Homo sapiens: one gene and its partners. The protein of the gene in region 3 interacts with the protein of the main gene of each other region in a pairwise test. Each region holds a gene or a part of one and is shown on either strand. Other genes may lie near its edges.

Region 1 (3,725 bases), on a different chromosome or scaffold from region 3:
CACAGTGGCTCACACCTGTAATCCCAGCACTTTGGAGGCCAAGGCGGGAGGATCACTTGAGGTCAGGAGTTCAAGACCAGCCTGAGCAACATTGCACACCTCGTGTTTTGCAATGCCGAAATACAAAAAATTAGCTTGGCATGGTGGCACGTGCCTGTAGTCTCAGCTACTTGGGAGGCTGAGGTGGGAGGATTGATTGAGCCTTGGAGGCATAGGTTGCAGTGAGCCGAATTCATGCCACTGCACTCTAGCCTGGGCAATAGAGTGAGACCCTGCCTCAAAAAAAAAAAAAAAAGAATCTAAGGGTGGGACCTGGGTATCCATGTTTTTTTAAAACTCTTCAGGTAATTTCAGTCAGGTTTTGACAATGCTAACCAGAGCTTCTAAAACTTTAATGTGCATAGGAATCACCTAGGGGTTCTTGTTAAAACAGTTAAAGTTCAGATTCTGATTGAGGATGTCTGGGGGTGGTCTGAGATTCTGTGTTCTTTGTTTGTTTGTTTTGCAAGCTTCCAGGTGATGCAGATACTGCTGCTGATCTTTGCACCACACTTTGATTCATGAGGCTGTACACTGTGCTGTCCTTAATGTTTCAAACACACCCCTTACCATTACTAGTCAAATGAGGGCAGAGGTTCCCCCAGAGCCTTTCTGTAATAATATCATCAAAACCTTGCTGCTTTGATCTTTAGATCCCACAAAAGTTCACTCTGAAAATTCTTCCCATATGCTCTCTCCTCTTATCATGTACTCACTGGTAAGCTAGGTTTAGATTCTGGAGTGAGCAGTGAGGTGCAATCAAAGTAATAAGGAAGAAAGTAGCTAGCTTGTTTCTCTGCCCAACTCACCCTGGGGGTTGGAGGAGACTCTGGCTTCCTTTTCTGTTTTTAAAAATTGTTCTATGGCCTCCAGGAATAGATAATTATGTTCTCATTCTCAAAATTGTAACCACACTACCCCCTACCACCAGTTCCCTCTTAAACATGTGCCTGCTTGTCTCTAGGGTCAGAACATATCCTGGGATATGGCGGTAGTCCTGAAAGCAACTCAGGAGGCACCTGCTGCTTCAACCCTTGGCAGCTACTCATTACCAGGGACTCTGGCCAAGAGTGAGATACTGGAGACTCATGGGACCATGAACTTTCTAGGTATGGTTCAGTTCCCTGATTCTGAATCTGACCATTGGGGTTTCTCAAAATCTTTTCAGAGACTGGTGGGCATCCAGTCTCCTAGGTTGACCAACAGAGTACTGAGGTATTGAAAGTGTCCAGGAAAGCTGGAAAGAGGAATGCTGAAATGCCTGTGCATTTGTCATGGGAAGTGGCTTATTTTGCACACAGGCTCAAGACACTAGACAAACATAGGTGTTGTGCTGAAACCTGATCAACACCAATATGGTACCAGGTTCAAGAGGCTGAAGAAGAGACCCAGAGCCAGCAAACAACATAGAATTTTACTAGGTGTTTATGTACAGGGTAGACAGTCTAGAGGCAGTGGACTGGGCACGGGAGAACCACATGGCCCAGTGGCACAGGCTGGACAGGAGAGCTGCAACTGCTTGCAAAAGGCATGCGGTTTATGTCGCATTTTCACTTAACACCCTCTCCCTAATGACCTCCACCTGGCAGCCTTAATTTAACCCAAAACAAGGGGCCTCAATCCCCTTTAAGGCCCGCATTCCACTGAAAGGGGTGGGGAATGGATAAGGAATGGATCTCCAGGTTGGCCACTTCTGGATTCCTTTGCTTGGAACTCCAAACTATATTCAGGTGTGTCTGCCATACAGGATCATTCTCAGGGTATGCTTAAGTTGTTGCCATCAGGTGTATTTACCATACAATAGGTGAATTCCAAACTCACTTTTTAGTGATATTTATTGTTCAATGAGTTTCATCTCTGTGCACACATGTAGGCACATGTCCTTTTTATACGCTTTGTAGTTAGCATAGGTTGGTGAGCCTGCAAGAGATGCTAGCCGAGGTAGGAACAGTCAACTTTTGTGGTGATTTTGAGCAAATGCCCTGGAGATGTTCTGTTTTCATAGATCTTTGTGCAAATTATAGAGGATTTTGAGCAGCTGTGTTAACCATAATGATGTTCAAAACTAGGTCTTCGTGAAGGGTACTGATGGCTTATCAACTTGTTCTCTCTAAGCTAGGACTAGAGAAAGGGTAGTATGTTCTAAAGATCTCACTGGCAGTGGCAGAAGCTTGCCTGTGGAGGAGTGACATATAAGTGAGGGTCAAGAATGCAGTAGCCATGAGTCCTGTGTTTCAAAGCACTTACTGGCTGATTGCCAAGCCCTATTCTTTTTATGAGTCTGCCAGATATTGAATATTTTGAACCCACTCTCCTCCCTAACCAGTTCCTCAGGCATCTGGGGACCAAGTCACTTTCTTAAACCAGTGCTATGGGGAAGACAAGGATCTCCACCTAGATTTTCTTGTCTCATATTTAATTATTCCCAAACTCTTAGCAGCTTCTGTTCCCCACTTTCTGCTTTGTGTTCCATTCTCTCTGGTGCATTCGCGTGCATGTCACTTATTTTCTGTCTCTGAGCTTTATCAGCCATTCATAGTCTTAACCCCAACAGCTGCACCTCATCAGGAATGGGCTCCCTTTTCCTACTTTGCCTCTTACCTCAAGACCATGTTCATACCCAAGACTTAGTATTTTGTGCTGCCAGCTATTTCCATGGCGATGGCAGGAACACTGCCAACACTATTTCCATGGCGATGTCAGCAGGCGATGGTGGGAACACTGAGCTCTATGTGTGAGAGATATCTGAGTGGGGTTGCTGCCCTGCCTGTAATAACTCTGTGACCTTGAGTAAGTCCCTTCTCTCTCTGGACCTCCATTTCCTGTTCTACAAATTGGGTGTGTTCATTAAGTACAGGATTTGTTGGCGGCCTCCTTCCTATGTGTCAGGCAGCGTGATAGGTGCTGGAGATACAGAAATGAATAAGACACAACCTTGCTCTTTTTTTAGCTGAAGGAGAACAGTTTCATCTTCATGATGAAATTGTATAATATACATGAAAGTGCTTTGGAAATTGTGATGTGTTACTGGGTTTTTAATGTCTGAGCAAGTTTTAACTGTAGTTTTCATATTTTAATTAATGTTGAATTTATTAAAGTTTATTCATTTAAAAACCAATTTTTAAGCCATTAAGCATAACTTTTTACTTCATCCATACATCTAGAAATATTTGTATAAAAGTGAGAACATTTGTATTTTTTCTTTAACTTATGTTCAGTTAAGCTTCAAATTTTACAGATTAAATTTTTTAAACATTTTGGCCGGGCGCAGTGGCTCAAGCCTGTAATCCTAGCACTTTGGGAGGCGGAGGCGGGTGAATCACCTGATATCAGGAGTTCGAGACCAGCCTGGCCAACATGGTGAAACCCTGTCTCTACTAAAAATTCAAAAATTAGCCAGGCATGGTGGTGCGTGCCTATAGTCCCAGCTACTTGGGAAGCTGAAGCAGGAGAATCGCTTGAACCCGGGAGACAGAGGTTGCAGTGAGCCAAGATTGCACCACTGCACTCCAGCCTGGGCAATAGAGCAAGACTCTGTCTAAAAAAATAAATTAATTAAAAATTTTAAACATTTAATTCTACCTGCTTATCAAATTTCTTTATATAAAACATAATTACAAATTTGATATCTTTAGTTCTTTAAAACATTCCAAACACCTAACTGGGCAGACTTACAAATCTTGTAA
Region 2 (3,825 bases), on a different chromosome or scaffold from region 3:
GTCTCCTAGGTTTTCCTCTTATGCTGAGAATTCCAGGTCCTGGAGAAGAAGAAAAAGAGAAAGAAAGAGAGAGAGAGAAGGAGTGAGAGAGGGAGGGAGGGAGGGAGGGAGGGAGGAAGGAAGGAAGGAAGGAAGGAAGGAAAGGAAGGAAGGAAGGAAGGAAGGAAGGAAAGGAAGGAAGGAAGGAAGGAAGGAAGGAAGGAAGGAAGGAAGGAAAAGAAACAGCAAAAAAAGAAAGAGGGAGGATGGGAGGGAGGGAAAAAGTAAAAATGATTCTGTATCAGCTGGTATATACCAACACCCTTCCCTGCCCCATGTCTTCACAGCTGTGTGGCAAGTGAAGACTAATGGATCCAGGCTTCCTGATGCTTCTATTTATCATTATTCACTTAGGAAGGGTGGGAAAAGAAATACTAATTACACACTTACCAATGGAATACTTTTACAAGGATCAAAATTTCTCACTGCGGCCATGAAAAAGAATGAGAGCTGGCGGCCATCATGCTTAGCAAAGTAATGCAGGAACAGAAAACCAAATATCACATGTTCTCACTTGCAAGTGGGAGCTAAATAAAGAGATCACCTGGACACTAGGAGGGGAACAACAGACACTGGAACCTACTTGAAGGTGGAGGGTGGGAAGAGGGAGAGAATGAGAAAAAATACCTATTGGATACTATTACCTGGGTGATGAAATAATCTGTACACCAAACCCCCACGACAAGCAATTCACTTATATAACAAACCCGCACATGTACTCCTGAACCTAAAAGTTAAAAGAAAAAAAAATATATACTAAAATGAAAACAATTCTCACTGTAACAATATTATCCCCTCGTAATTATTATATTCCTAAGTTTTAGGCACTTTTACATCCTGCTCGCTGCCCCCAGCTCTCTTAACACAGCATCCAGGACATAGTGGGCGCTTATAAATACTGATGGCATTAAACTGAGCGCTTATGATAGCATATTTAGAGCAGTGCTTTTCAAACGTCTAGGTGCATGTGAATCCCTGGGGACACCGTTAAAATGCAGATTCAGAGTTAGAAAGTCTGGTTGGAGCCTGAGATTGGGCATTTCCACCGAGTTCCCATATGATGCTTGTCTATGTTCTGTATTTTTCAAGGTCTCAGAAAATGAGACCTCCCTATCCATATACAAATATAAGTCACACAAACTGTGATAATTTAATGAAAGTTTACAAAGAGCATAGAAGTAGATGTTTCCTCTTTTCCCCTGCCCTCCCAATAAAGGGAACAAATTAGATGCGAGGGTTCAATGGAAAGAGTTGCAACAGCATCCAGGCGCTCGCTCTCCTCCGGTCTTCCTGAGACAGGGAAAGGGGTAATGAGAGGAAGGAGGAAAGTGTCCAGGAGCTCCCACGCTGCTGTTCTTCCATTTCCAGCTTTTAAAGAGCACCCGCCCCTTCGAACCACCGAGGTCATGGGCGAACACACCGGAGCGCAGCACCGCGCCCCCCCGCACACACCGCCCGCCTCCGCGCCCTTGCCCAGACCGAGGCGGCCGACGCGCCTGCGTGCGCGCTAGGTATAAATAGGTCCCAGGAGGCAGCCACTGGGCAGAACTGGGCTACGGGCGCCGCGGGCCATGGCGGGCGAGAACCACCAGTGGCAGGGCAGCATCCTCTACAACATGCTTATGAGCGCGAAGCAAACGCGCGCGGCTCCTGAGGCTCCAGAGACGCGGCTGGTGGATCAGTGCTGGGGCTGTTCGTGCGGCGATGAGCCCGGGGTGGGCAGAGAGGGGCTGCTGGGCGGGCGGAACGTGGCGCTCCTGTACCGCTGCTGCTTTTGCGGTAAAGACCACCCACGGCAGGGCAGCATCCTCTACAGCATGCTGACGAGCGCAAAGCAAACGTACGCGGCACCGAAGGCGCCCGAGGCGACGCTGGGTCCGTGCTGGGGCTGTTCGTGCGGCTCTGATCCCGGGGTGGGCAGAGCGGGGCTTCCGGGTGGGCGGCCCGTGGCACTCCTGTACCGCTGCTGCTTTTGTGGTGAAGACCACCCGCGGCAGGGCAGCATCCTCTACAGCTTGCTCACTAGCTCAAAGCAAACGCACGTGGCTCCGGCAGCGCCCGAGGCACGGCCAGGGGGCGCGTGGTGGGACCGCTCCTACTTCGCGCAGAGGCCAGGGGGTAAAGAGGCGCTACCAGGCGGGCGGGCCACGGCGCTTCTGTACCGCTGCTGCTTTTGCGGTGAAGACCACCCGCAGCAGGGCAGCACCCTCTACTGCGTGCCCACGAGCACAAATCAAGCGCAGGCGGCTCCGGAGGAGCGGCCGAGGGCCCCCTGGTGGGACACCTCCTCTGGTGCGCTGCGGCCGGTGGCGCTCAAGAGTCCACAGGTGGTCTGCGAGGCAGCCTCAGCGGGCCTGTTGAAGACGCTGCGCTTCGTCAAGTACTTGCCCTGCTTCCAGGTGCTGCCCCTGGACCAGCAGCTGGTGCTGGTGCGCAACTGCTGGGCGTCCCTGCTCATGCTTGAGCTGGCCCAGGACCGCTTGCAGTTCGAGACTGTGGAAGTCTCGGAGCCCAGCATGCTGCAGAAGATCCTCACCACCAGGCGGCGGGAGACCGGGGGCAACGAGCCACTGCCCGTGCCCACGCTGCAGCACCATTTGGCACCGCCGGCGGAGGCCAGGAAGGTGCCCTCCGCCTCCCAGGTCCAAGCCATCAAGTGCTTTCTTTCCAAATGCTGGAGTCTGAACATCAGTACCAAGGAGTACGCCTACCTCAAGGGGACCGTGCTCTTTAACCCGGGTAAGGGTACTGGCCTTAGGCGCCGGCTTTTCCCAGCTCACAAAAGCATCGGGCAGTGCCTATCTAGGGGCGCGGGCAGTAACGAGTTTTCAGTGATCAGGAGAGTGTCGGGGCAAAGGTGAAGAAATCGTGACTAACTCAGCAGAGTTGGGGTGGGGAGCTCCAGGAACCACTTCTGCTGGGTGGGCTGCTATCAGAAACTCAGCCAAGAGGAGGGGAGTTGTTTGTTTAGGTTTGTACTTGGCTCTCTACACATTTCTTACCATAGAAAAGTTTGTGCCTTCATGGGAAATGGTTATTCTTTCTTCTTTAGCTTTCTTTTAAGTCCAGAGCATATCTTTTTCTAAAAAAAGTTTTTGCTCACTGAAGATTCTGCAACATCGATTTCTGAAACCCCATTCTGAAATTTACTAGAACCTTTTTTGGGGGGAGGAAATCTATTAAGGCTAGCAAAAAAGGAAACATTTGTTAAAGGGTCCCATAGAGAGACTATTCCCTAGGGACACACAAGACACTAGATGTAGTGTTTCATGGGCCTGCCTCTGAATGGTTATTTGTATGGTCCTAAGCATCTGGACTATCCCTTCCTCCAAATCTCTGTGAATAATATCAGGTTGGCAAAGGGATAGGGAAAAAAGACACATTAGGGACTGAGAGCAGGAGCACTGTATTTTAGAATTCAAAGAGACTTTAGAGACCTGCTAATCAACCCCCTTTGCTCTGTAGCCTCCCCCCACCCCATTTTACTGAGTAGGTAGATGTGTCCCAAGGTCCCAAGTAAATGGTTGGTGTGTTGTGGCACCTGAGGGTCCTGTCTTCTGGGCCCAGTGGGATATTGGCTGCACTAAACTTTCAGGTTGTCTGTTGGGTGCTGGACACACTGTCCCACAGAGTGCAACCAAATCACTGGAGGAACGTCTCCCTGGACAGCCAGGCACCTTGTCTTGGGTGTTTCTCACTATTAGAATCATCTTCAACCAGCGTCCTTTCAAAATGATTGAAGTGGGAACAAAATTTTCCAGGCAACTTGAGTTGGGATAGTTTTTA
Region 3 (3,500 bases):
GTCTCAAAAAAAAAAAAAAAAAAAAAGGTGGGTGGGGGCTTATACTATGTGTGCTGCTTGGCACTGTTTTTTTCACTTAAAATATATTGCAGGTTTTTTTTCACGTAAGTATCTGAAGAAAGACTTCCTTTTTTTTTTTTTATTTTTTATTTCTTTGCTTTTTTGAGACAGGGTCTTGCTCTGTTGCCCAGGCTGGAGTGCAGTGGTGAGATCAGGGCTCACTGCAGCCTCCATCTCCTGGGCTCAAGCCATCCTCCCACCTCAGCCTCCTGAGTAGCTGGGACTACAGGCGTGTGCAACCACATCTGGCTAGCTTCTGTATGTTTTGTGAAGATGGGGTCCCACTATGTGGCCCAGGTTGGTCTTGAACACCTGGGGTCAAGTAGTCCTCTTGCCTTAGCCTCCTAAAGTGCTGGGATGACAGGCCTGAGCCCTGCGCCCGGCCAGCCTCCTGTGCGAGGTTGTGGGGGGACTCTGTCGTGGAACCCAGTACGTCTTCGTGTGCTGGCTTGTTTGTTGGCTCTGTAGTTAACGGGCTGCCCCACGTGGACAGGCACTGGGTTGTCTGTGTCTCTGTGTGCAGGCAGAGGCTGCTGCATGTGCATCTGTGCACATGGCTGCCAGGAGGGGCTGTGCTCAGGGGGAGCTGGGGCAAAGGCTGGTGGCACTGGGGGGCTTGGGTGTAGTGTGGAGGCGTGAGAGCCAGGTGGCTGGGGTGCAGTCTGCGGGAGCTCGGGGGTCTCTTGGCCTCCGTGTGTCCTAGTGTCTTTGTTGGTGAGATGGGACAGTGACAGCACACCCTCACAGTTGCTGGGGGCTGACAAATGTCAGGTCTGAGGACAGTTGCTGGCCCACTATGGGGCCAGTTCCCCTTCTCTACAGTCACCCTGCTCGTCTTCCACCGACTGGGTGCTCAGGACAGTGGCGTGGTGGATCCGCCTGTACATCCTGTGCTCCAGCGTCCTGCAGGCCACAGCTGTGTCCAGCCCTGACCCCGACTGCCCCTCCCGCCACCTCCATTTTATAGATGAGGAAACCGAGGCCCAAGGGCTTAGGGAACCCTGCTCTGAAGCACACAGTAGGGCTGCTGGGCTCAGACCCTCCCTCCCTGTGCTGAGCTGCCCTCCTCCTGCCGCAAGCCCCCCACGCCCCAAGCCCACCCTGCTCACTGGCCTCTGCCTGAGTTCCCCCCATGGTGTGGGAGTGTGGGGCAACCTAGCTTTTCCCCGGCACCCAGTTCTTTCACTTCCACTGGCGTCCTGCAGGGACAGCTCAGGGACCATGCAGGCCCGGGTGGGCGTGGAGGCTCACCTAGCTCGGTGGTGAACAGCTGGCACGTCTCTGGGTTGCGGACGGTAAAGGCCACGTAGACCTCAGGAGCCCGCTGGTGCTCCCGGCAGGCAGCCAGCCTCCGCAGGACCCCGACCAGCGACATGATGGCTTCTGGGCAATACAGCACATCTATGGTGAAAGCTTCAGGTTACTGAAAGGGACCAGTGGACAGGTCCAGGTCATGCTGACGTCAGCAGCAGGGCGAGGCCAGAGAGGCAGCGGTCATATGAGACTAGTAGATGCCATTTGACCATTTGGGCCATTAGATGGAAAGGCAATTACTTGGGTGAAAAAGGAGAACCCTTAGTAGAGAAAGCTGCAAAAGACCGAAGCAAAAGAAAAAAATCTCCAGACTCACTGGTGTTCCTTAAAAAACCAGCTCTGGTTCTTGGCCTATCTAGAGGGCTTTGAATGACACAAAGCCTGACCCTGCCATGAACTTCATGTTTCAGGCATCTGCTGATTTGTCTGCTGGCTTGCAGGGGTGGGCTTGTGTCCCTGGCCACCGCTGGACCTGTGGGTTTCAGGGCTGGGACCTAGGACCACAGGCAGAGCTCTGTTCCACCAGAGAGGGGACTGAGTGTGCTGGCAGGGGTGAGGGGTTTTCGGTGGCCCAGCCAAACACCACCTTCTCTCAAGGGCCCTGTCTTCGTCCCAGAAGTGGTTGTTTTCCTCCTGTGGTCTCTGAAGGACACAGGGCATGGCTCTGGGACAGAGCCATGTGGTAACGACTGGAACGGGAGTATGCCTGTCTCCAAAAAGAGGGCTGTGGGTTGAAGGTCACCTTAAGAGGCACCCCTGTCCTGTGATGTCACCCTGGAGGCCCAGAGTAACTCTTCTGGAAGCCCCATCATGTCCATGCCCGACAGCGTCCATTGTTCCCTTTTCCCAGAGCCAAGAGCTGGGTAGAGCTGCAAGGACACCACCTGCACAGGGTGCCCGGGGCTGGGCATTACCTGCTGCAATGACAACATCTGGCTGGAAGGCAGAGAGCTGATGGACCGTCGCGACGTCCCAGTCCAGCTGGGCCACTGTCACCCTGGGGCTGTCTAACTTGGCAGTGATGTCTGCCTCTAATGAGAGGCCATTGAGAAGGACATTCCCTCGGAGCTGCTCAAGGACCCGGCTGTGACAGTCGCTGAAGATGTATGCCCGGGGGCGGCACATCTTGCAGATGGCCAGGCCTGTGAGGCCAGCACCACTGCCAAGCTCTAGGACAGTCCTGGCGGGAGGAAAGGGGACCGTGTCTGCGACTGCACCAGGGTAAGCCTGCCTCGGTGCCCTGCCCTGCGCCCCGAGGTCACCTGTTAGTGAAGACTGCCGGGTTCTCGATGGCCCATTCTGCAAGGTAGAGGGCGGCGTCCCATGTGACCAGGCCTGTGGTACCGTAGGAGATGATGGCCGTGCTCTCGGAGAGTGTGACCGAGCCTCCCGAGGGCTGCACCAAGAGAAGGCGAGAGAGTCAGTCCAGCGATCAGAAGGCAAGTGGCTTAGAAGACAAGTAGCCCCACCACATGGCTGAATAAACCATGACAGGACCAATCGCCACTCAGCAATGAGAAGCAGCTAACTGTTGGCATGCCAACAGCTTTCACGGGCCTCAAGGGTGTCACGCGGTGTGAAAGACACTCATCTCAGGCCACACAGGATTCCATTCATCGAACCTTCCTGAGACAACGGAATTCTGGCGATGGAACACATGTCAGTGGTGGCCAGGGGACAGGTGTGGCTATGAAGGGGTGGCTGCCTTGTGATGATTCAATATGCTGTTTTTCCTTTGTGGTTTTCTGTATCTATGTTTTATCTTATTTTTTTTTGAGCTCTGTCACCCAGGCTGGAGTCAGTGGCACGATCTTGGCTCACTGCAACCTCTGCCTCCTGGGTTCAAGCAATTCTCCTGCCTCAGCCGCCCAGGTAGCTGCGAATACAGGCGTGTGCCACCATGTCCGGCTACTTTTTGTACTTTTTTTTGAGACAGAGATTTGCTCTCGTTGCCCAGGCTGGAGTGCAATAGCATGATCTTGGCTCACTACAACCTCCACCTCCTGGGTTGAAGAGATTCTCCTGCCTCAGCCTCCCTAGTAGCTGGGATTACAGGTGCCCACTACCACACCCCGCTAATTTTTGTATTTTTAGTAAAGATGGAGTTTCACCATGTTGGCCAGGCT

What was found.
Region 1: the proteins of EEF2KMT (region 3) and ZNF35 interact in binary tests that used the Homo sapiens proteins (3 or more experiments, as listed by UniProt).
Region 2: the proteins of EEF2KMT (region 3) and NR0B1 interact in binary tests that used the Homo sapiens proteins (3 or more experiments, as listed by UniProt).

Annotation. Positions count from the first base shown.
Region 1 is NC_000003.12:44,651,554-44,655,278, forward strand, and holds part of ZNF35 (zinc finger protein 35), read left to right. Parts: intron 1-1,003; coding exon 1,004-1,148; intron 1,149-3,725. UniProt on the Homo sapiens protein: May be involved in transcriptional regulation. Involved in cell differentiation and/or proliferation.
Region 2 is NC_000023.11:30,307,149-30,310,973, reverse strand, and holds the start of NR0B1 (nuclear receptor subfamily 0 group B member 1), read left to right. Parts: upstream 1-1,583; 5' UTR 1,584-1,610; coding exon 1,611-2,778; intron 2,779-3,825. UniProt on the Homo sapiens protein: Nuclear receptor that lacks a DNA-binding domain and acts as a corepressor that inhibits the transcriptional activity of other nuclear receptors through heterodimeric interactions.
Region 3 is NC_000016.10:5,087,796-5,091,295, forward strand, and holds part of EEF2KMT (protein-lysine N-methyltransferase EEF2KMT), read right to left. Parts: intron 2,771-3,500; coding exon 2,637-2,770; intron 2,555-2,636; coding exon 2,289-2,554; intron 1,462-2,288; coding exon 1,312-1,461; intron 1-1,311. UniProt on the Homo sapiens protein: Catalyzes the trimethylation of eukaryotic elongation factor 2 (EEF2) on 'Lys-525'.